Linked DNA regions of Homo sapiens: regions 1, 3 and 4 are each linked to region 2. The links come from fine-mapping of genetic effects on gene expression. A gene starts in region 2. Each other region holds a variant in brackets. All regions are shown on one strand. Distances are between the middles of the regions.

Evidence for each region.
Region 1: its variant is fine-mapped to the expression of CAV2 in whole blood (INTERVAL, PIP above 0.99).
Region 3: its variant is fine-mapped to the expression of CAV2 in lung (TOPMed, PIP 0.96).
Region 4: its variant is fine-mapped to the expression of CAV2 in whole blood (INTERVAL, PIP above 0.99).

The regions. Positions count from the first base shown.
Region 1 is chr7:116,336,478-116,342,067 of GRCh38, forward strand. It overlaps LOC105375463 (a long non-coding RNA gene), which reads left to right. Exons shown (of 7, transcript XR_001745336.2): 7 at 643-731. LOC124900233 (a long non-coding RNA gene) reads left to right here and starts at 736. Exons shown (of 3, transcript XR_007060487.1): 1 at 736-817; 2 at 3,346-3,442. The variant T/TTCTC (reference allele first, on the strand shown) is at 3,167.
Region 2 is chr7:116,496,766-116,502,355 of GRCh38, forward strand. CAV2 (caveolin 2) reads left to right here and starts at 2,973. Exons shown (of 3, transcript NM_001233.5): 1 at 2,973-3,166; 2 at 3,495-3,682. The coding sequence starts at 3,017. It overlaps CAV2-DT (CAV2 divergent transcript), which reads right to left and starts at 2,751. Exons shown (of 3, transcript NR_188012.1): 1 at 2,589-2,751. RefSeq lists enhancers at 1,988-2,489, 2,536-2,675 and silencers at 2,856-2,945, 4,730-5,024.
Region 3 is chr7:116,445,468-116,451,057 of GRCh38, forward strand. All of the region lies in intron 1 of CAV2-DT (CAV2 divergent transcript), which reads right to left. Among named protein-coding and RNA genes, the nearest start is that of CAV2-DT, 51 kb to the right of the region's middle. RefSeq lists a silencer at 2,967-3,294. The variant A/G (reference allele first, on the strand shown) is at 3,200.
Region 4 is chr7:116,407,424-116,413,013 of GRCh38, forward strand. No RefSeq gene overlaps it. Among named protein-coding and RNA genes, the nearest start is that of CAV2-DT, 89 kb to the right of the region's middle. The variant A/G (reference allele first, on the strand shown) is at 3,269.

The DNA.
Region 1 (5,590 bases), 160 kb before region 2:
GGGATTACAGGCATGAGCCACCGTGCTCGGCCAGAATACACTTAATTCTTGATATAAACATAATTGAGTCTACTAAGTAAGATAATAGACAAGATGGTGTGTGTGTGTGTGTGTGTGTGTGTGTGTGTGTGTGTGTGTGTGTGTGTGTGGCTTACAGGCAGATATTAAAAAGCCAATATCAAAAAAGAGATTACAGATGTAGTTGGGTCCTTTCCGCTTTCCAAGGTTCCTACTTCTGTTCCTGCACCCTAAATTTTGTCTTCCCCATCTGCTCTCAGATCTTATTTCCTCTGTAACTTATTCTGATATATAAGTAGAGGAAAATGAAATGGGTCTAGAGTTCATGTTTAAAAAGAGAACAAAAGAAATATGGGTGCTAGTATGTCTCATGTTCTCAACTATCTCAAGCCATATGCTCAAAGAGAAGAAAAACCTGAGGAAAGTATCAAAACACTTGTAAAGCTCATTGTCTAGTATATTACATTTTTTAATTTTTTATTTTTAAGTACTATGGATATATAATAGTTGTTCAAATTTTGGGGATGCATGTGATATGCTGATACCAGCATACAACGTGTAATGATTAAATCAAGGTAATTGGGGTACTCCTCACCTCCAGCATTTATCTTTTCTTTGTGTTAGACCACCACCACATGTGCAGCATCCCTCTGGGTCTCTTCCATGACAACCCTGTGGGAAGCCAGGCAAGTGAGAATCAATGTAAACATGAAGTTCATGCTGCTTACTGTGTCGTGATAATGTCCTTGTCTCCCAATCAGGAGCCTCATGTCTTCTTGCCAGCCTCTGTGGAACTGTGGTAGGCTATTAAGTTAATTAGCAAGCAGGGTAAAGTCTCAGATCCTTTGCATTTTCTTTTAACCAGCTCTTTCTAGGTGAAAGACACATGGATATCACTGTGAAACTTCATGCTCTGTATAGCTCAAAATTTTGCCCAAGGGGAGGTTCCAGCACCATCTGATTAGTACATATTGCTGAGAAAAATACTAAAGGAAGAAAATACTAATAATAATATATTTCACTAACCCTCTTAGATATTAAGAAATGAATGAAAAGGTCTATATTATTGACTATTAATCACTTGGAATCTCTGTTGTTAAACTGAGAAGTAAACTGCATTGCCTAGAATATTGGCCATATTTTTAGTGATACTAATTAAATTGTTTGAGATAGATCTGAAGACAGCAGAAGCTTGTCTGGGCCTAGCTTCCTTGAATTCTTCTTCCCCGAATTGCTATGTCTTGGTAATTTTGAAATATGAGTTAGAAACCATCTACTTACCTAACTGATATCATTATTCCAGTTAATGTTTGTCCCAAGGTATTTCTCAAAGACTTAAGAAAAATGAAAATTCTATTTTTTAAAGGGCCTAGCTCTTTTAAAAGGATATGTTTCATGGAATTCTATTTATCAACAAACATGTAGACTACTTCAACAAGACTTCAATGTGATTTCATGTGTTTATTCTCCTGAGTCAGATGTGAACAATGTAATCCTAAAAGATTTTGGGGAATGGTGACATATGCTACTTAATTCACACTCATGAGCTTAAGAGAAGATAAGAGAATGTCATGCTCATGTGTGACAAAGATAAAACTATATTCTAACTAGGATTACAAGAATAAAACACCAGAAACTTGACAACTTGACATTTTTTCACAGTGCTTAAAAATAAATGTAATAAAACTTTGGCAGTTAATGTCATTTTGATTTGCTTTAATTTTATTTTCAAACCTCTATTATTGAAATAATAATTTCATTATTTCAAACCTTCATAGGAAAATAATAGAATTGTGCTGTTGTGTCAGTATAAGACATAGTCAACATTTTCTGCAATGAACAAGTAATGTTGAGATTAACAAGATTTCTCTTAATAAATGTTTTATACAAGCATAAGAAAAATGGATAGCACAAAAAATGGATAGCACAATAGGGTAACATTAGCACTTTAACAAATAAATCCCAACATTCTAATGGCTTAATACAATTGAATTTTATTTCTTGCTCATGCAACAGTCCAGCACAGGTGCTCATGGTCTGCTGCTGGGGCCACGATGCATCTGTCTCATGCAGTCATATAGAGACCCAAGTTGATAGCTGTGATGTGTTCTCCAAAACATGGCTTTAGAGGTTGCCATGGAAATCAACATCCAACTGATGGAAGAGGCAAGAGAAAGGATGCAAAAACCACACCAGCTGTTTAATTACCTGGGTCCAGAAGTAACAGGTGCCACTACCTCTCACATTCTATTAGTGGAAATTAGTCACATGGCCTCTCCTAACTGCTAGTAAGTATAGAAAAGTTGGTTTTGGCTGGGCAGCCACAAGACAAAGCTACTAAGAAAGACATAGCATTAATTTTATGTTGTTAGCCATCTCTGCTATAAGCGTAAGTCAAATAGAATTTTCATTTTTCTTAAGTCTTTGAGAAAAACATTGGGACAAACATTAACTGGAATATTGATATCCATTAGGTATGAGCTTGATTGTTTCTAACTCATATTTCAAAATTACCAGATATAGCAATTCAGGGAAGAAGAAAAAGGTTTAAAGACTGTGACATTCAGACTGCTATATTCAATACAGAAAAGATATTTGGTGATATTTCTATCCCTTTTTCTTAAATGTACATTCTTCTGGGATTTAATAAAGTCACATTCTGATTTTTAAAAATAGTACTATTAATCTCACTATAGAGCTCTGAAAATAATAGAATCGTGCTGTTATATTACAGCAGTTATTGATTGTCCATTTTTTCCAAAGACACTGAGATCTATGGAAGAAATAAGCCTCATTATTTTTCATTTGTATTTAATGTAGATGCAACAAAAGTTATATACTTCTTTATTATATATTTTGTCATGCCTATTAAATGCCAGTTATATAAGATGATTCCTGATCCAAACACAGTGCTTTATGTTATTGGGATTAAAAGAATTAGTTAAAGCTTTAAGTTAAATTACTTTTGAATTCATTTATGGCTAGGTACACATGAAATAAACACTCTACATTGTCTACAGTGGTAATTGCCAAGAAAAAGAGTATATTTTAGTAACAATTTGGCTAAGCGCCTCAAATTCAAAGTAATTCCACATTTAAATACTAACACTCAAACCTGAAAGTTGTCTTTAAAAGCTTTATAAATTGT[T/TTCTC]TCTGGTGAGGGTTTTACGACTATGGGGTGGGTGGAAAGGGGAGGAAGGAAGAGGGACTGCCTCACTATAAGCTGATAACAAGGTTGCTAAAAATTGCTCTTATCAATGGTCTTTGCACTTAACTTGTTTAAATAAAAGAAAAAACTTCATGTGAGTCATCGTATTTTGTTCACTACAGCTTGGCAGGTCACCTTGTTCTAGCAGATAGAAACTGAATCAATATGGGAAGAGCCAGAATTTGGACAAGGTTCACCAAACATTCACACTGATGCCAGGTGGGCCAAGAAAAAGGGAATGTCCTGCCTCTGAGGTATCTAAAAATTTTTATGTTTAAGTCAAGGGTTTTGTGTTGTGAAGGCAGAGCTTTGAATTTCTAATAGAAGAAGAAAAGCAGAATATACCCAGAAACTCCTGATTAAATTTATGGTCCTCTAATAATATTTTAACTTTAAAGGAGTCAGACGGCATTCTAGAAAAGAGCCCTTTGGTCAATGCTTTCCTATCTATAGTTTAATCAACCCTTCCATATATGCACATATTAAGCAAATTCAAATGACATTAAAAATAAGTTACATTTCTTATTCTAACCCCTGCCATTCATCCCGCTTTCCCCCCATTGTCACACATATGCCCACTTCCACTTCTGCACATAGGAAGAAAGGGTGAATAAATGTCAGAATCAAGTGGAAAGATTAATCATAGGCTGTTTTTTACATTGTTTTATTCTGAGTCAGAATACGCTTTACAGGACATAGGCAAGCACTTGAAATATAGGACTCAGAACATAAGATGCTTCGTAGGACCCAGGCAAGCACAGCAATTAAATGGAATTCCACATTTTTAAGGAAAGCTTTTTACTTTTCTTCCTCTTTTTGTTTCTCTTTACTTTTGCAGCTCCCTTCAAAAGTCCTTTCTGTGAGACACATTTTTAACTACCATATTGTTCAATTTTAACAAGAGTTCAGGGTGAGGAAGGTTATAGCTGAGGCATTTACAAGGATTTCCTGTTTGTAGTGGCTGCTTTTTCCTCTTTGGTAATGTGTTTTTCACATTTTTTAAAAGCTGCCTGTATGCATTAATATTACTTAATCTCCATCACCTTAAGAAACCATATGGGGCAGGGAGAGGAAGACCGGTGCTGGCTCTTTCCCTTTCTCAATGACTTGAGACACCTTAACCTTGCTTAACTTTTTCTAGAAAATGAAGATAGTAACACCTGCTCTGAATTGTCACAGAATTATTGTAAGGCTCAAATAAAATCTATGTATTTAAGGAATCAATATGTAATAAAGATCTTGAAGTGTTAGTAGTCGATTATATCTGAGATACATTCGCCAATATCCAAGGGGGACAAAGAGAGCTCCATACCCCGGGGGAAATGTAGTCCACTGACAATTTGTCCACACAATTAGAATACAAAATAGCACCCTATGCCTCAACTTTTTTACAGTCAAAGAAAGCATGAGGCATAAATAGTCCTGAAGGGATGTGGAGTCTGTTTGCTCTGCATATGATTTGCATATGCTCCTCTGAAAAGTCACCGGGCAACCGAGTAATTGTACAGTAATGATGTGGTTAAAAAAACAGATTGATCTACTTTTATTATTATTGTTACAAAATAATACATATATTTTTAAAATTCAAACGATACTAAAAGTTACATTCCCTGTCCTACTCCCTGTCACTTATACCATTTCCCAGTTTCTGTTTTTAGTTCTGATGGTTTCCTTTTTGCTCTCCACTGTGACTGATATACATTTATACTTCTATTTTTTGATGACTCAAGTTTCGATAGTATCTTCTCACTCCCAGTACAAGATATTCAGTACACAAAAGATATCCTTTTCTCTCCTGAGTTTCATTTTACGTGTGTATGAACACACAAACATGCTAACACACATGCTCACACAATCTTTTAGCTCTTGTATAGGTTCCTGAATTAATTGTTCAGTAGTATACTAAGCCTCTACTTCTGGTTTCCAATTTAGGCCCTGCATGTTGTCCAACACTAGCCCATCAGTGGGATTGTTTTACATTCAGGGCAGCTGCACTACTGCCTCCTTGGAGAACAGTGCCTCCTGGAGTTTAGCAGTGCACAGCCCTACAGATTAATGCAGGGGCCCTGATCATATTTGTATTTTGTTCCTGTATATGTTTAATCAATCTTTAGAATCTCATCTATAGTTGGTTCATTATTGCTGGGAAACAAACGGCATTTACAAAGTCAAATTTTAGTAATGTTATTCATTATATAAATGAATAGTATCTTTCTCTCCATATCCTTTACAAAGTCTTCAAAAGTTTCTGAAATTTCACTAGGATAAGTTGGTGGATCTTTTTCTCACCCATTCAGTACTTTGTGGGCTTTTTCAAATGGCAGATTTGTGTCTTTTTTAAAACTCTGAATAATTTTCTTCTATTAC
Region 2 (5,590 bases):
ATACCTGAGACTGGGTAATCTATAAAGAAAAGAGGTTTAGTTGGCTCACAGTTCCACTAGCTGTACAGGAAGCATTATGATGGCATCTGCTCAGCTTCTGGGGAGGCCTCAGGAAACTTACAATCATGGCGGAAGGTAAACAGGGAGTATCACCTCACGTGGCCACAGAAGGAGCCAAAGAAAGGTGAGGGGGAGGTGCCACACACTTTTGAAGGACGAGATCTAATGAGAACTCACTCACTATACAGTACCAACTGCGGGGTCGGGGGGCAGGGGTGGCAGTGGGGGTGGTTGCTAAACCATTCCTAAGAACTCTGCCCCCATGATCTAATCTCTACCTCCCACCAAGCCCCACCTCCAACACTGGGGATTACAGTTCCACATGAGATTCGGGCAGGGACACAAATCCAAGCCATATCACTAACCTTATCTAAATACTGGCCAATAGGATAAGCAAAATCATTTTTATAGCTTCCTTCAAAAAATCTTATGTATTAAAATGTTGAAATGTATAAGAATTTCATCAAAATAAGAACCTCACCAGATCTGACCCAAGGGAGAGAAGATTGTTCAATAAAAAATTACAAATGGATGAATAAATGAATCCTCTCCTTTCAAGTTCTGTGCTCCATACAACAAATCTAGATGGGTCTCATTTAGATGGGATTTAGAGACACCTTTCTTAAATACCTATCATTTTACGAATGAAGCTGTTGTCTAAAGAGTCCTCTTGGCCACTTCCTGAAAACAAATCAATTATTTGTGATAACTCTCAAATGTCCTAATAATCCCATGGAAAATGTAAATGTAATGAGGACCAAGAATTATAAGGTAAGAAGTGCTAATGTCAGATTTTTACCCACTACATAAGCCCACTCTTGTACTAGGGCAGTGACTTTCTTCTTTGGGTGAGACCTTGAAATCTGGGATTATAATTTTGAATTATAATTATAAAATGGTATTTGGCTGTAAATTATCTCCTTTTTTTTTCTGTTCCTCACAGTTGATATTATGGATTCCCATAAGGATTCATGTCTTCTATTCACTTTAATGAACAGTTGTTGGGCAACAATTCTAGAAGAGTTCCAATTCTCATCAGGAGAATGGACAAGGTGGAGAAGCAGAGAAAATGCAATGAGTAGAATGTCTAAGTCATCACTTTGGAATTGACTGAACATAAATAAAAATGAGAAAGATACGTAAAAAAGAAGGGAATGGGTAAGCAGGGTGATGTCTGGGAGAGGAGGGGCTCCATAGCCATGAGAGTCAACTCTGTAACACCCTATAGGGTTACAACACTGCCCTTCATATACTGAGGTAGCAGCAGGGAAACTTTTTAATTATTAGAAATATTGAACTTTGCCTCCCACCCCCAAACATTTTTCTCATTCAGTTCCTGTTCTTTTTTATTTCTGTAATTTTTACTGTTTCAAAAATGATCTTTTTTCTTTCGGAAGAAGCAATTCTTCAAATCCAGTTCACATAAGGGGATTTGATATGTTCAACAAGCTCCAAATACACTGTATCCAGCAATACCTACTACATGCCTACTTTGAGCTCTGAGCAACCTGCACCTCAAGCCTAGTTCTCATTGTTTTGCTTTTGGCAAATTTTCACTAAGTGCCCTTCCTCCCCAAACACACGTATATGTCTACCAGACCCTAAAGCCCTTTATGAACATGCAAACTCCTCCCTTCTGAAAACCTTTGCGTGAGTGGTCAGCAGGCTAATTCATCCATTGCAATGTGGCTTTGTGTTAGGGTTCTGTTTCCGTGCTGCCTGCAAGATAATCACAGATGTGACTGCATCTTAGAAGTTCCTGAATCTTTCAAGACAGTCTGGTTCACAAGAAAATTAAAAGGTGGAGGTCGGGCGCGGTGGCTCACGCCTGCAATCCCAGCACTTTGGGAGGCCGAGGCGGGCGGATCACCTGAGGTTGGGAGTTCGAAACCAGCCTGACCAACATGGGGAAACCCCGTCTCTGCTAAAAATACAAAATTAGCCAGGCGTGGTGGTGCATGCCTGTAATCCCAGCTACTCGGGAGGCTGAGGCAGGAGAATCGCTTGAACCCGGGAGGCAGAGGTTGCGATGAGCCGAGATCGTGCCATTGCACTCCAGCCTGGGCAACAAGAGCGAAACTCTGCCACACACACACAAACACACACACACACACACACACGGTGTAGTTTAGGAAGTAAAAAAAAAAAAAAAAAAAAAATCAGATCTCCCCTCACACCTCAGATCTGAAGGCACAAACTCTAGGGCCAGGGCGTTCGCCTACCCAACTCCACATGCACTTGCAGGTCACCTAGCACTCAGGTACCTAGCACTCAGGTACATTGTGGCTCCTTACCTCTCACGACAGCAGCAACAACGTTGATTGGAAGTTTATCACTGTGTGTTACGGGCCATGGGCCATGTGTGTTAGAATTTTATGTGAAATTAACATTTAATTCTCACGGACACCCCTGAAACAGATGCCACAGCCCCCATTTTGCCAACGAGGCAGCTGAGGTTCCCAGAGGCTCAATACCAGCACCATGAGCCGCAGCACGCAAGGCAAACACAGCCGGAGGTGAGCACATACCTGCTTCGCACCCCATGCGCCTAACCACAAGGTTCCCTCCCTCCAGGAAGGCCGTTGTCTTCCCTGGGACGACTTGCCAGCTCTGAGGCATGACAGTACGGGCCCCCAGAAGGGTGACCAGGAGGCCCTCCTCGTCCCAGCTGCCGGCGTCGCCGCCCACTGCAGGGCCCGGGCTGTGACTCGTGGGGACGGTTCCCTGCGCCCCGGCGGGGGAGGTGGGCGGGGAGGGGCGGCGGGGCGCCGGGGCGGGGCTCGGGACGGCCGGGCTGGGAGCTGGAGCCCACAGCGGGAAGCGGCCGCCGCCCGGGCCTCGCAGGGCTAGGCGAGGCGAGGGGGGGCGGGGCCGGGCGCTACGGGAAGGGGAGGCCGCGCGGACCGGGAGCCGCACCGCGCCAGCCGGGCTGCAGCGGCCGCGCACCAAGGCTGCGATGGGGCTGGAGACGGAGAAGGCGGACGTACAGCTCTTCATGGACGACGACTCCTACAGCCACCACAGCGGCCTCGAGTACGCCGACCCCGAGAAGTTCGCGGACTCGGACCAGGACCGGGATCCCCACCGGCTCAACTCGCATCTCAAGGTGAAGCCCGGGGCGGGCGGGCCCAAGTCCCCGCTGAGGCCGGGAGGTGCGGGCGCCCCTCAGCCCCGCCCTAACCCGTCCCACCATTGCTACCGGGTCGGCCCCGCAGGGTCTGAGACCCGCACCCTTCCCCGGTCCCACCCGTCACCAGGCCGCCCGCGTAGCCAGGAATTCTTAGCCAGGTTCCTGTGCGCCCACCGTGACCCTAAGAGAAGAGGCGGACGCCCTGGCACGTCCTTCCCTCCTGCTTCCCCCGCCCAAAGCGCTCCCGGTTCCCGGGGCGTCAGGTTGGCTGACAGTTCGGGGTCCCTGCGTCCTGTCTCCTCAGCTGGGCTTCGAGGATGTGATCGCAGAGCCGGTGACTACGCACTCCTTTGACAAAGTGTGGATCTGCAGCCATGCCCTCTTTGAAATCAGCAAATACGTAATGTACAAGTTCCTGACGGTGTTCCTGGCCATTCCCCTGGCCTTCATTGCGGGAATTCTCTTTGCCACCCTCAGCTGTCTGCACATCTGGTGAGACGGGGCACACCGGGTGGACCGGCTTTCTGAAACATGGGCATATTCTCCGCCACCTGCCCCCTACTCTCCTCTTATCCCAGGCCGGCGTCAGGAGGAGGAACGCGCATCAGTTCCCAAGCAGTAGGAAGAACTGGAAGGCCTTGAAAGGCAATGCGCTTCCTTTAGAATAACAGTTTGGGCTTGGAGTTTCAACAGGAGAAAGAATGTCGGTCTTTCCTGGGGTGTGATTTTCCTTGCATACATAAGGCTGGGCTGAGTGTGGAGGCGGGTACCTGGAAGCCACACTTCTTACCACAGGCTGCTCTCGGGGCCCTGTTGTGACTCGTACCTGCGGTTCTGGGCAGGACTCTTCTTTCTTTCATTGCCTTTTATTCAGTCACTGCCTGTGCTTGGGGTAAAACAAAAGTGATCTCTGAGCAGAATGCCGCTGACAGTAGAATTGGATGAGGATGTCAGACCTGGTTAAGCAGTAGTGTGGAGGGGCTGCTTCAACTTTGCCCCTGGCAGATGGCAAGGATGGGACCCAGAGGAAAGGGAGGTGTGTGCAGTTAAGGCGAGGGTCCCCCCCAGTACAAACGAATGAAAACTCCAGCTGCGGGATAATGAATGAGAAGGCCTCCAAATTACTTTTTCACTGATGAAACACAAATGGAAGTGGCATATAATTAAAGGGGAAAGAAATATGGAAGCCCACTGTATATTGATAGGATATTTTGAGTAACTCTATTCATACTCAAAATGTGTCCTAAACTGTAGAGAACTTTCTTAAGCATCTTTTAAATTTTTTATGGAAAATGTCATATTTTACCAATAAATGTTGTTGTGTTAGAAAATATCCACTTTAATCTGAGAGGAAGAATATTCAGATCATCCCCAGTATCACAACAGTTGTCACGCTAGTGCTTCAGGTTAGTCCTGGTGAAAGGTATAACCCAAGGTACCTCCGTGTCTTTCTTACACCTTTTATGATATTGCCACACCCTGATAAATACTCGGTGTTCATTGTTAGAAGTTACCAATTTATCCTTTATTTCTCTATACCACCTGAATCTTAATTTATTTAGTCAGTTAGCTAGCTAGTTAGTTCAACAAACTTTAAATTGATTGAGTGCTTAGTTTGTGCTGGGCACTGGGCCAGGATGAATGAGAGATAGGGTCTGCCTTCAGCTTACTCACAGCCTTATCAGGGCAGCTGGCTAGGTACAGAGATGGACGCTGAGAAAACACAGTCAACTGACAAAGAGGGAGGAACAGACAAGGCTTTGAAGAGTGAAAGGAGTCGAAAAAGACTTTGAAAGGATAAATGAAAATTCACCAAATACGTAAAGGATACACAAAGAACACCAATTTAATTTTATCACTAAAGGTTGTAAACAATTAAACTATGTTGAAGGTGCCAAGATTGCCAGGGAAATGAAAATGTTGCCTTAGTACATGATCAGCTTCATGAAGGTCAAATGGATAGTTATATTCTGACATTTGCACTTGAATTTTTTTTAAGATCCCTGAGTTGGCACATAAGATTTGGGATTCCCAATTAACTAAAACTAATCATCTAACCTCTATGTCAGTTTTCTCACTTTCAAAACTGTGAAAAACTGAGTGACCGCATAGCATATTGTGAAATGCTGACTATGAAGCTATTTGGAAATGTGAAGTACCATATTTATAGTCAACAAAGCTAGGCTTCCCAAAGCTTTTGTGAAAGAATTTGAAAAAAAAAAGTTTCTCATTTACTAAGTGGTGGAAAGATATAAGTAAAACTACAATTAACCAAGCAATGCCTCTCTCCAGCTGGCTCTTCTGAGAATGGGAGGTGTTTTTGTATAGTGCTTCAATTGGTGAATCATCAATGCACCTTTTTTTAGCCACATAAAATGTATTATTTAATATTATTTAACT
Region 3 (5,590 bases), 51 kb before region 2:
CTCTAGTCGTCCTTATCCATTCATCAAATAATTAAGGTATGAACAATATATAATTAAATAATTTTGGCAAAAGGTGAGTTTCTGTTATTATACAAAGGCTTAACTAATAATGTGAGTCTTAAGGTTTCATACTATGAAATGCTAGAAAACATAACAGACGTTCTCACACCTTTCTCAGTTTCTATCTTGGTGCCTCTATTAATACACGAAAATAATGTGCTTCCCCTTTACAGCCATGAAAATCATATTGAAAATGATGCATACTAAACAAAAAGATACTGTGTCCTTGAAGAATCAGGCCATAAACAAGACTTCTTTTGGCATTCACTAGAAAAATCTCAAACTCATGAGGACCTTTTTCCAAGGCCATCTTTTAAGTAACGCAAATTTGGAAATACATGAGAGGAAATAATTTGTTAACCAGCTGTCTTTCTTAAACATCTCATTAAACAAATTAATCCATACCAAAGGGGCTACCATACAAGGTCATAAATGAAACAAGTCTTGCATATTTGTCACTAGGGCAAAAGATACAAAAGAGATAAAATTCTGGGAACAAACTATGCTGTTTAAACTCTCACAAACACTTTCTAATTAAAATTTGGAATAGAACGGAAATCAACAGTACTCAGTCATTTCTTTACATCAACTATATTTAGAATAGGACAAATAATGAAAGATTTAATAATGTTCATATGGAATGCATTGAGATCAGGCAGCTTGGAGAGGTTGGCTTTATAGACAAAAATACTCTATGATTCCACTTATATGAGGTACCTAAAGGAGTCAATTTATAGAAACAGAAAGCAGAATGGTGGTCTCCAGAGGCTGGGAGGAAACGTGAATGGGGAGTTGTTTAATGGGTATAGAGTTCGTCTTGGAAGATGAAAGGAGTTCTGGAGATTGGTTGCACAACAATATGAATATACTTAACTCTACTGAATTGTACATTTAAAAATGGTTAAGATGGCAACTGTTCTATTATGTGTATTTTACCACAATTAAATTTCTTTAAAAGAGAGAAAAAATACCTCAGTTGTTTCCTGTAATATTCAGATAGAATTCTGGAGGAAAGATCGTCTAAGTCCTAGTTATGTTAGATCCTTCAAGATCCTGTCCCTCCTTACGTCTCCCTCTGATGACGTCTCCCTTCAGCACTGACACTCTGTACTGCTAGCTGTACTGGAAAGTTCCTAGATGGCAGTTTTTTTCTCAAACTCTGACTCCCAGAACATTTTCTACTTTTTCCCCTGGGAGATGATGGGGGATTTACCCTGAAGCTAAGGAAGCTAAGACAGCAGGGCACTTCACCACCATTCTCTTCCAAAGCCATGTACTTAATTTTTTTCATTTTATTTTAAACCACTCCCTCTCTCCCCACATACACAAAAAATTTGTATAAGCTTCAGACCCCACTAAACTTGCATCCACCTCTGCCAAGGTGTCTTATATATATAGTAGGATATCCCTTCCTCCAGGACATAAGCATCCTGTCCCAAACCCCCTTTTGGTGATGTGTGTATTGTCACATTGTTTACGTATTGTCACAGACACTGGATTGTACTTACCAGCCTTCCAAACCAAGCTGTGTGTGTTTTCTAAGGAAAGGGATTTTATTTGTCTCTCTACTTCAGTTCCTGAAACATAGTACAGGATAAGTGTACAAGAATTGATTTAAGTCAGTTCACGAACTGACTTAAGAAAGCTGGCAGAAGAGTCAGGACTAAAATCGAGTCTTTAAGTTATGGGTACGCAAAGGCAGACAGAGTGGTATAATGGCCATTGGAGACTCAGAAGAGGGAGGGTAAGAGGAGGGCGAGGGAAGAAAATTACATATTGATTACCACATACACTGTTCAGGTGGCAGGTACACTAAAATCTCAGATTTCACCACTATACAATTCATCCATGTAACCAAAAATCACTTGTTCCCCAAAAGCTATCAAAATTTTAAAACTCTTTTTAAATAATTAATATAATAATAATAATAAAATCGAGTCTTTAGTATTTCCCCTACCCCTAACTCATCTTTTCTTCTTTGCCTAGTTAGGGGCACACAAACTTCCCTCTTAGAAATATAGGGATTTGCTTGCTATGCAAAGTAAACATTAAACAGGTTTAACTAGACAGCTCAAGTTTTATGAAACTAATCTTTATGTCAAGACACTGAAGGCAACTTAATAAAAACAGGGATTTAGATATGAATAAACTATATACAAACTTGACGTCCTACTTGAAGAAAAAGTAAAAGTTGGGCTCAGTATTTCTGTCTGCATACTGTGCAAACAATTCCTAAAATACAAATCATACCTCTAAAGTGAAATAAGGAAAAGTTCCTCATACTGAAAAGCTCCCTCAGAATGCATTTTAGATCCTCAAAAACTTAAGGACAAGTTCATATGTAGGTATTTCTGTGTGCTTACACAGGATTAATACTTTTGAATCATTAACAAGTCAAATTAGTAAGAATAAAAATAAACAATATTAATGTGTACTTAGTATGTCAACATTTTGCTGTTTTCCCATGCATTATTTTATTTTAGCCTCTTGATGTCTCTATGAGGTAAGTATTATTATTATTATTATTCCCATTTCACAAGCTTTGAGAGAATAAGTCAAGTGTTCCAGGTCACCCAGCCAGAAAGGTATTAAGCCAGGACTGGCACTCAATGCCTGGCCTCCAAGCCAAACCCTTTCACCATTAAGCTGCATTATCTCTCTTTTTTTGAAGTTATCTTTTCCAAAGGCCATTTTCAGTCCAGGACAAAGCAGTGAGGCCGGCTGGGGCATCAGGGCACTCCCTGAGCTCACAAAGGGATAATGAGAATATTCAAAAAGATCATCCTGCTAGAGATGAGTAAGAAAACAGGGAGATATAAATTTTATGTACTTAAAAAATGAATCATGCAGACATTGCCTGAGTTATAAGCAACTATTTCAGGCTAGATGAATTTTGTGAAATAAAATTTTGGGGACCTTAAATTGTGTATATATTATAGTTAAGTTGATCCCTGAGTTTTAATTTACGGGTATATTTTATTTAGAATCACAATTGTTTTTATAATACAATAATAACAAAACCGTCACTCTGAATAAACAGGAATATATGTTTATGTTGTACAGTAACTTGTTCCAAGGAGTTATTAAAACTGTAAACCAGACTTTACAGAAGGCAGAGGCAAAAGGAAAGCATGTTGCT[A/G]TCTTATCCTGCAGTGCAGATGAAGATATCAAAATGGGGTATTGCCTGCCAGGTGTATTGTAAACTGTGATTGGAAAAGGAGACAAAATAAGGAATCAAGATATCATGCCAATGCTTTAAAAGAAAGTGCTTTTGTTTTCAATATTTTTAAGGTTAACAGAGTGAAAAGACTGAATTAAAATCAATGGTCAGTTCTTACATGCTTCTTCAAATTTCCCAAACCATGTGTTTGCCTTCTCTATTTGCTATCTCAGAGAGTTTTGAATTAGAACCACTTTCCTTCCTAAATTTAAAGCAGTAATAAAATGTTAAACTGCAGAAATGAAATGATTATGTATATGTATATGTGTATGTATATGTATATGCATATGTATATAACATAGTTTCAGTAGTACATTACTGAAAACATGAAAGCCTAACTAGATAATTACTGGTACAACACATTTCTTCTGTTGCACATGTACCGGGAAGAAAATCAAATTCAAAAGGAGTGGTGCAAGATGGTGGACTGAGCACATTTGTTTATCCTCTTTTCTTCTCTAGATCTTTTCAAAAGTAAAGATATAGAGAAAACATAGAATCACAAAAAAGAAAGAACTGGAGATGGACTATCAGCAAATAAGAGTTTTAAATGAAGTTACAGGAGGCAAAAAGTAGAATGAGGTGGGATAACTAGTGAAGTTATCCAGAAAAAAAGTCACAGCCCAGAATGTGTTCGTTTTCAACTCTTGAAAGTCAACCTACGTATACATCAGAAAGGTGTTAATTATGGGTGTAGAACAGAATGCAAATGCTTTTAAACTTGACGTGTATACGTGAAAGTATAAGTGATGTAAATTAGGAAATGGAAACAAGGAAGAAAGTTTAAAACAAGAGTTTAAATTAGTTTAAATCACTATTGTCCTTTTATGGACTGAGAAGCCTAGAGATACTGTCTATTATCAGTAGATACACAAATAGCCAAGAAGTCATAAAGTACTGCTAGAACAGTGCTATAACAAAGCTGGAGGGTGACGGTGGGGGTAGCAATGGTGTGGAGGACATAACACTGCTAAATCTCCATCGATTACATCAGAAAGTCAATAAATTACACCAAAGTGCAAAATTAAGAAATAGTGGCATAGTATACATAGCATGTAGATTTATGAAGTTGAGGTATGAAAGAAGTTTGAGACAGAAACACTTAGGGAAAAAAAAAACTGTTGTCTCTGGGAAACAGAATTACATGTAGGAGAAGATGGGGCAAGGAGCTAATGTTATTACAAATTTTTCCATATTTTATTTTTTTAAATGGGCATGTATTATGTTTGCAAAATTCTAAATGCATATAAGAAAAAATAAAAGCCTTCAAACATCTCTGTAGGTTCAGCATATCAATTTACGTTTGATACGCATGGTGGGGAAGTAAGGCAAATGCCTGAAAAATGCAGAACCTGCATAGAAAGAATGTAGAAGTTCCTATTTAGGACTGTGTTATGACATGGTGATGTCTGTTTCTATTCCGGCCAATAAATCCTGGCAGTTGGTCAATTGTTATCCTGTTAAAAGGTCTGGAGTGGAAGAATGGACTGTGTTTTTCGTAAAAAGCTTGCTGACAAGACCAGAGAGAGTTTCCACTGGCAATTCTATTTCACAGTCCTTTCCCTTCTTTGGGCAACACAAATGATGGCAATGGGCAACCACATGGCCTCTAAAATCTTTTCCTTCACTCCTCTGAGTGCAAATCTCTACAGCACAGAAATGCTCTGGATAGTTCTGTGCTTCTGTGATTGGTAATATCCCTTGGACATGTTTAAGAACTATAGAAGCAAAATAGCTTGATTTTCCAGAACACGGCATCTTCACGATATAGCATCTACTAATTTAAGATAAAACGGTTTCATAGATCCAAAAAGGTAGAAAAGTTCCAGTGATTCATAGAGTTAATTGGTCAATTATTGCCAATTAGAATTAGTCAGAAATATGCACACACACACACACACACACACACACACACACACACAGGACAAAACATATCTCTGCATAGTTCAACTTTGTTCCAAAAGGAAATAATAATCAATCCCTAAAACAACAGAAATGTCACTAGCCTGTCAAATCCTGGGTAGCACTCGGGCCTCAGAGAGTTAAATTCACGCCATATTAGGAAGGCATTAATTATTATTACAGAACAGAATGTAATAATATTACATTATTAATATACCAAATAATATTACAAATATTATTACAGAAAGTAATAATATTAAAATTGATATACTGAACCTATAATGTTATATAATTATTATTACATAACATTCTGTTTATTAGGTAAAAATGTAAATGATATAATTTGGAAGATGCAGTTCTCCTAAATGTAGCTCTCAGATTCCCAAAGCACTGGCCAGTAAGAAGGCT
Region 4 (5,590 bases), 89 kb before region 2:
CAGAGGCTCTCTTGAAGAGGACTCCTGGGACTCCAGAAATGGAGGAGACATTAAATGGTAGGAGTTTGAGTCTCTGAATAATTATACGAATGCACACTCATCAGGAACATCCATTGTGGAACTTCTGTAAGCAAAAAATATACATTTCTGAATGTTGAGTCATAAAATTTCTGGATTACTTTTTTTTTTATTATACTTTAAGTTTTAGGGTACATGTGCACATTGTGCAGGTTAGTTACATATGTATACATGTGCCATGCTGGTTTTTTAATAAAGGCAAGTACTATTGTTATTTACTCTAAATAATACATGAGCAATGCTTCAGAGGTCCTCTTTGTAGCTAAGTCTTTCTGCAAATACCTAATTATTTACTTAGAAAATATTCTTGGAAGTAGAATTTCTGGTCAAAGGGTATGAACACTTAAAGTTTTTGAAATTGCCTTCCAGAAAGCTTCTGCATTATTTAAAAACCCTACCAGCAAGTCAATGAAAATTTCCAAAACAACTCGCTTCATTAGAATTTAACCATATTTTCTAACATAGATAATTTTGTAAGGAATTTGCTAGGCTCTTGTGTCAGCAATTTTACTAATTATTTATATGTCTTTAAGTCTATGTAACATACCCATCTTTCAATTTGTTTCAAAGATCAAATGTCATGGAATATTAACAGTACATATTTAAAATATTAAAAAATATAAGGTAATACAAAAATAAATTAGATACAAATCTAATTTCATGTATGTAAATGTAACAGTTATACATAGTAACAAATTTTATTCTGCCTTGAAAAGATTATCTGCTAAAACCTTGGCCATATGATCTTTAATTAGATTGTTACTTTGCTGGGTTATCATAGCAGCATTAGTTACTTAACAATACAGATGTTTCCTTTTTGTAGTTTTTATTGGCTCAAGATGAACACAAGCTTTAGTTCAAACAAAAGTGAGAGAGTGCAATTTAAATGAGGAGGTGATAGAATATGCACTAGAAGAGAAAAGGAGATAGATGTGTCGACTGTTTGTTTTGTTTTCTTTTGAAAATTGCTGCGTCTCCACTCCTGGTTTGACACTTGGAGTCCAGAAACTTTCCAACTGTGTTGAACAGAACTTCTGTCTCCCCTTGGGAGCAGCAGCAAGCCAGGGTAGACCACAAGTACCAATGAAAATACCTCATCCTATTTATACTGGGTCACATTTCCCCATTTTTGACAGATAGAACCTTTGGAGAAGAATATTAATGACCATTGGGAGATGACACTAGTCATTTAGGGAAACACTCAATAAATAGGCAAGTGATACTTCACACAGGGACTCCCTAGATTTGCAAAATGCTTATACCCCAGAGGAAGCTTTTCCTGGAGATGTGATAATTTCTTTTTTAGGATAATAAAGCTTAATTCTGTAGAACTACCAGACAAAGCAAGACAGTCCACTAGGGAGGAGCCAAGATGGCCGAATAGAAACAGCTCCGCTCTACAGCTCCCAGCGTGAGCGACGCAGAAGACGGGTGATTTCTGCATTTCCATCTGAGGTACCGGGTTCATCTCACTAGGGAGTGCCAGACAGTGGGCACAGGTCAGTGGGTGCGCGCACCGTGCGCCAGCCGAAGCAGGGCGAGGCATTGCCTCACTCAGGAAGCACAAGGGGTCAGGGAGTTCCCTTTCCTAGTCAAAGAAAGGGGTGACAGACGGCACCTGGAAAATCGGGTCACTACCACCCGAATACCGCACTTTTCCGACAAGCTTAAAAGACGGCGCACCAGGAGGTTATATCCCGCACATGGCTCGGAGGGTCCTACGCCCGTGGAGTCTCGCTGATTGCTAGCACAGCAGTCTGAGATCAAACTGCAAGGAGGCAGCAAGGCTGGGGGAGGGGCGCCCGCCATTGCCCAGGCTTGCTTAGGTAAACAAAGCAGCCGGGAAGCTAGAACTGGGTGGAGCCCACCACAGCTCAAGGAGGCCTGCCTGCCTCTGTAGGCTCCACCTCTGGGGGCAGGGCACAGACAAACAAAAAGACAGCAGTAACCTCTGCAGACTTAAATGTCCCTGTCTGACAGCTTTGAAGAGAGCAGTGGTTCTCCCAGCACGCAGCTGGAGATCTGAGAACGGGCAGACTGCCTCCTCAAGTGGGTCCCTGACCCCTGACCCATGAGCAGCCTAACTGGGAGGCACCCCCCAGCAGGGGCAGACTGACACCTCACACAGCCCAGTACTCCAACAGACCTGCAACTGAGGGTCCTGTCTGTTAGAAGGAAAACTAACAAACAGAAAGGACATCCACACCAAAAACCCATCTGTACATCACCATCATCAAAGACCAAAAGTAGATAAAACCACAAAGATGGGGAAAAACAGAGCAGAAAAACTGGAAACTCTAAAAAGCAGAGCGCCTCACCCCCTCCAAAGGAACGCAGTTCCTCACCAGCAATGGAACAAAGCTGGATGGAGAATGACTTTGACGAGCTGAGAGAAGAAGGCTTCAGACGATCAAATTACTCTGAGCTACGGGAGGACATTCAAACCAAAGGCAAAGAAGTTGAAAACTTTGAAAAAAGTTCAGAAGAATATATAACTAGAATAGCCAATACACAGAAGTGCTTAAAGGAGCTGATGGAGCTGAAAACCAAGGCTCCAGAACTACGTGAAGAATGCAGAAGCCTCAGGAGCCAATGCGATCAACTGGAAGAAAGGGCATCAGTGATGTAAGATGAAGTGAATGAAATGAAGCGAGAAGGGAAGTTTAGAGAAAAAAGAATAAAAAGAAATGAGCAAAGCCTCCAAGAAATATGGGACTATGTGAAAAGACCAAATCTACATCTGATTGGTGTACCTGAAAGTGATGGGGAGAATGGAACCAAGTTGGAAAACACTCTGCAGGATATTATCCAGGAGAACTTCCCCAGTCTAGCAAGGCAGGCCAACATTCAGATTCAGGAAATACAGAGAACGCCACAAAGATACTCCTCGAGAAGAGCAACTCCAAGACACATAATTGTCAGATTCACCAAAGTTGAAATGAAGGAAAAAATGCTAAGGGCAGCCAGAGAGAGGTCAGGTTACCCACAAAGGGAAGCCCATCAGACTAACAGCGGATCTCTCGGCAGAAACCCTACAGGCCAGAAGAGAGTGGGGGCCAATATTCCATATTCTTAAAGAAAAGAATTTTCAACCCAGAATTTCATATCCAGCCAAACTAAGCTTCATAAGTGAAGGAGAAATAAAATACTTTACAGACAAGCAAATGCTGAGAGATTTTGTCACCACCAG[A/G]CCTGCCCTAAAAGAGCTCCTGAAGGAAGCGCTAAACATGGAAAGGAACAACCAATACCAGCCGCTGCAAAATCATGCCAAAATGTAAAGACCATCAAGACTAGGAAGAAACTGCATCAACTAATGAGCAAAATAACCAGCTAACATCATAATCACAGGATCAAATTCACACATAACAGTATTAACTTTAAATGTAAATGGACTAAATGCTCCAATTAAAAGACACAGACTGGCAAATTGGATAAAAAGTCAAGACCCATCAGTGTGCTATATTCAGGAAACCCATCTCACGTGCAGAGACACACATAGTCTCAAAATAAAAGGATGGAGGAAGATCTACCAAGCAAATGGAAAACAAAAAAAGGCAGGGGTTGCAATCCTAGTCTCTGATAAAACAGACTTTAAACCAACAAAGATCAAAAGAGACAAAGAAGGCCATTACATAATGGTAAAGGGATCAAATCAACAAGAAGAGCTAACTATCCTAAATAAATATGCACCCAATACAGGAGCACCCAGATTCATAAAGCAAGTCCTGAGTGACCTACAAAGAGACTTAGACTCCCATACATTAATAATGGGAGACTTTAACACCCCACTGTCAACATTAGACAGATCAACAAGACAGAAAGTCAACAAGGATACCCAGGAATTGAACTCAGCTCTGCACCAAGCGGACCTAATAGACATCTACAGAACTCTCCACCCCAAATCAACAGAATATACATTTTTTTCAGCACCACACCACACCTATTTCAAAACTGACCACATAGTTGGAAGTAAAGTTCTCCTCAGCAAATGTAAAAGAACAGAAATTATAACAAACTGTCTCTCAGACCACAGTGCAATCAAACTAGAACTCAGGATTAAGAAACTCACTCAAAACCACTCAACTACATGGAAACTGAACAACTTGCTCCTGAATGACTACTGCGTACATAACGAAATGAAGGCAGAAATAAAGATGTTTTTTGAAACCAACGAGAACAAAGACACAACATACCAGAATCTCTGGGACGCATTCAAAGCAGTGTGTAGAGGGAAATTTATAGCACTAAATGCCCACAAGAGAAAGCAGGAAAGATCCAAAATTGACACCCTAACATCACAATTAAAAAAACTAGAAAAGCAAGAGCAAACACATTCAAAAGCTAGCAGAAGGCAAGAAATAACTAAAATCAGAGCAGAACTGAAGGAAATAGAGACACAAAAAACCCTTCAAAAAATTAATGAATCCAGGAGCTGGTTTTTTGAAAGGATCAGCAAAACTGATAAACCGCTAGCAAGACTAATAAAGAAGAAAAGAGAGAAGAATCAAATAGATGCAATAAAAAATGATAAAGGGGATATCACCACCGATCCCACAGAAATACAAACTACCATCAGAGAATACTACAAACACCTCTACGCAAATAAACTAGAAAATCTAGAAGAAATGGATAAATTCCTCGACATATACACTCTCCCAAGACTAAACCAGGAAGAAGTTGAATCTCTGAATAGACCAATAACAGGAGCTGAAATTGTGGCAATAATCAATAGCTTACCAACCAAAAAGAGTCCAGGACCAGATGGATTCACAGCCGAATTCTACCAGAGGTACAAGGAGGAACTGGTACCATTCCTTCTGAAACTATTCCAATCAATAGAAAAAGAGGGAATCCTCCCTAACTCATTTTATGAGGCCAGCATCATCCTGATACCAAAGCCAGGCAGAGACACAACAAAAAAAGAGAATTTTAGACCAATATCCTTGATGAACATTGATGGAAAAATCCTCAATAAAATACTGGCAAACCGAATCCAGCAGCACATCAAAAAGCTTATCCACCATGATCAAGTGGGCTTCATCCCTGGGATACAAGGCTGGTTCAATATACGCAAATCAATCAATGTAATCCAGCATATAAACAGAACCAAAGACAAACACCACATGATTATCTCAATAGATGCAGAAAAGGCCTTTGACAAAATTCAACAGCCCTTCATGCAAAAACTCTCAATAAATTAGGTATTGATGGGACATATCTCAAAATAATAAGAGCTATCTATGACAAACCCACAGCCAATATCATACTGAATGGGCAAAAACTGGAAGCATTCCCTTTGAAAACTGGCACAAGACAGGGATGCCCTCTCTCACCACTCCTATTCAACATAGTGTTGGAAGTTCTGGCCAGGGCAATTAGGCAGGAGAAGGAAATAAAAGGTATTCAATTAGGAAAAGAGGAAGTCAAATTGTTCCTGTTTGCAGATGACATGATTGTGTATCTAGAAAACCCCATTGTCTCAGCCCAAAATCTCCTTAAGCTGATAAGCAAC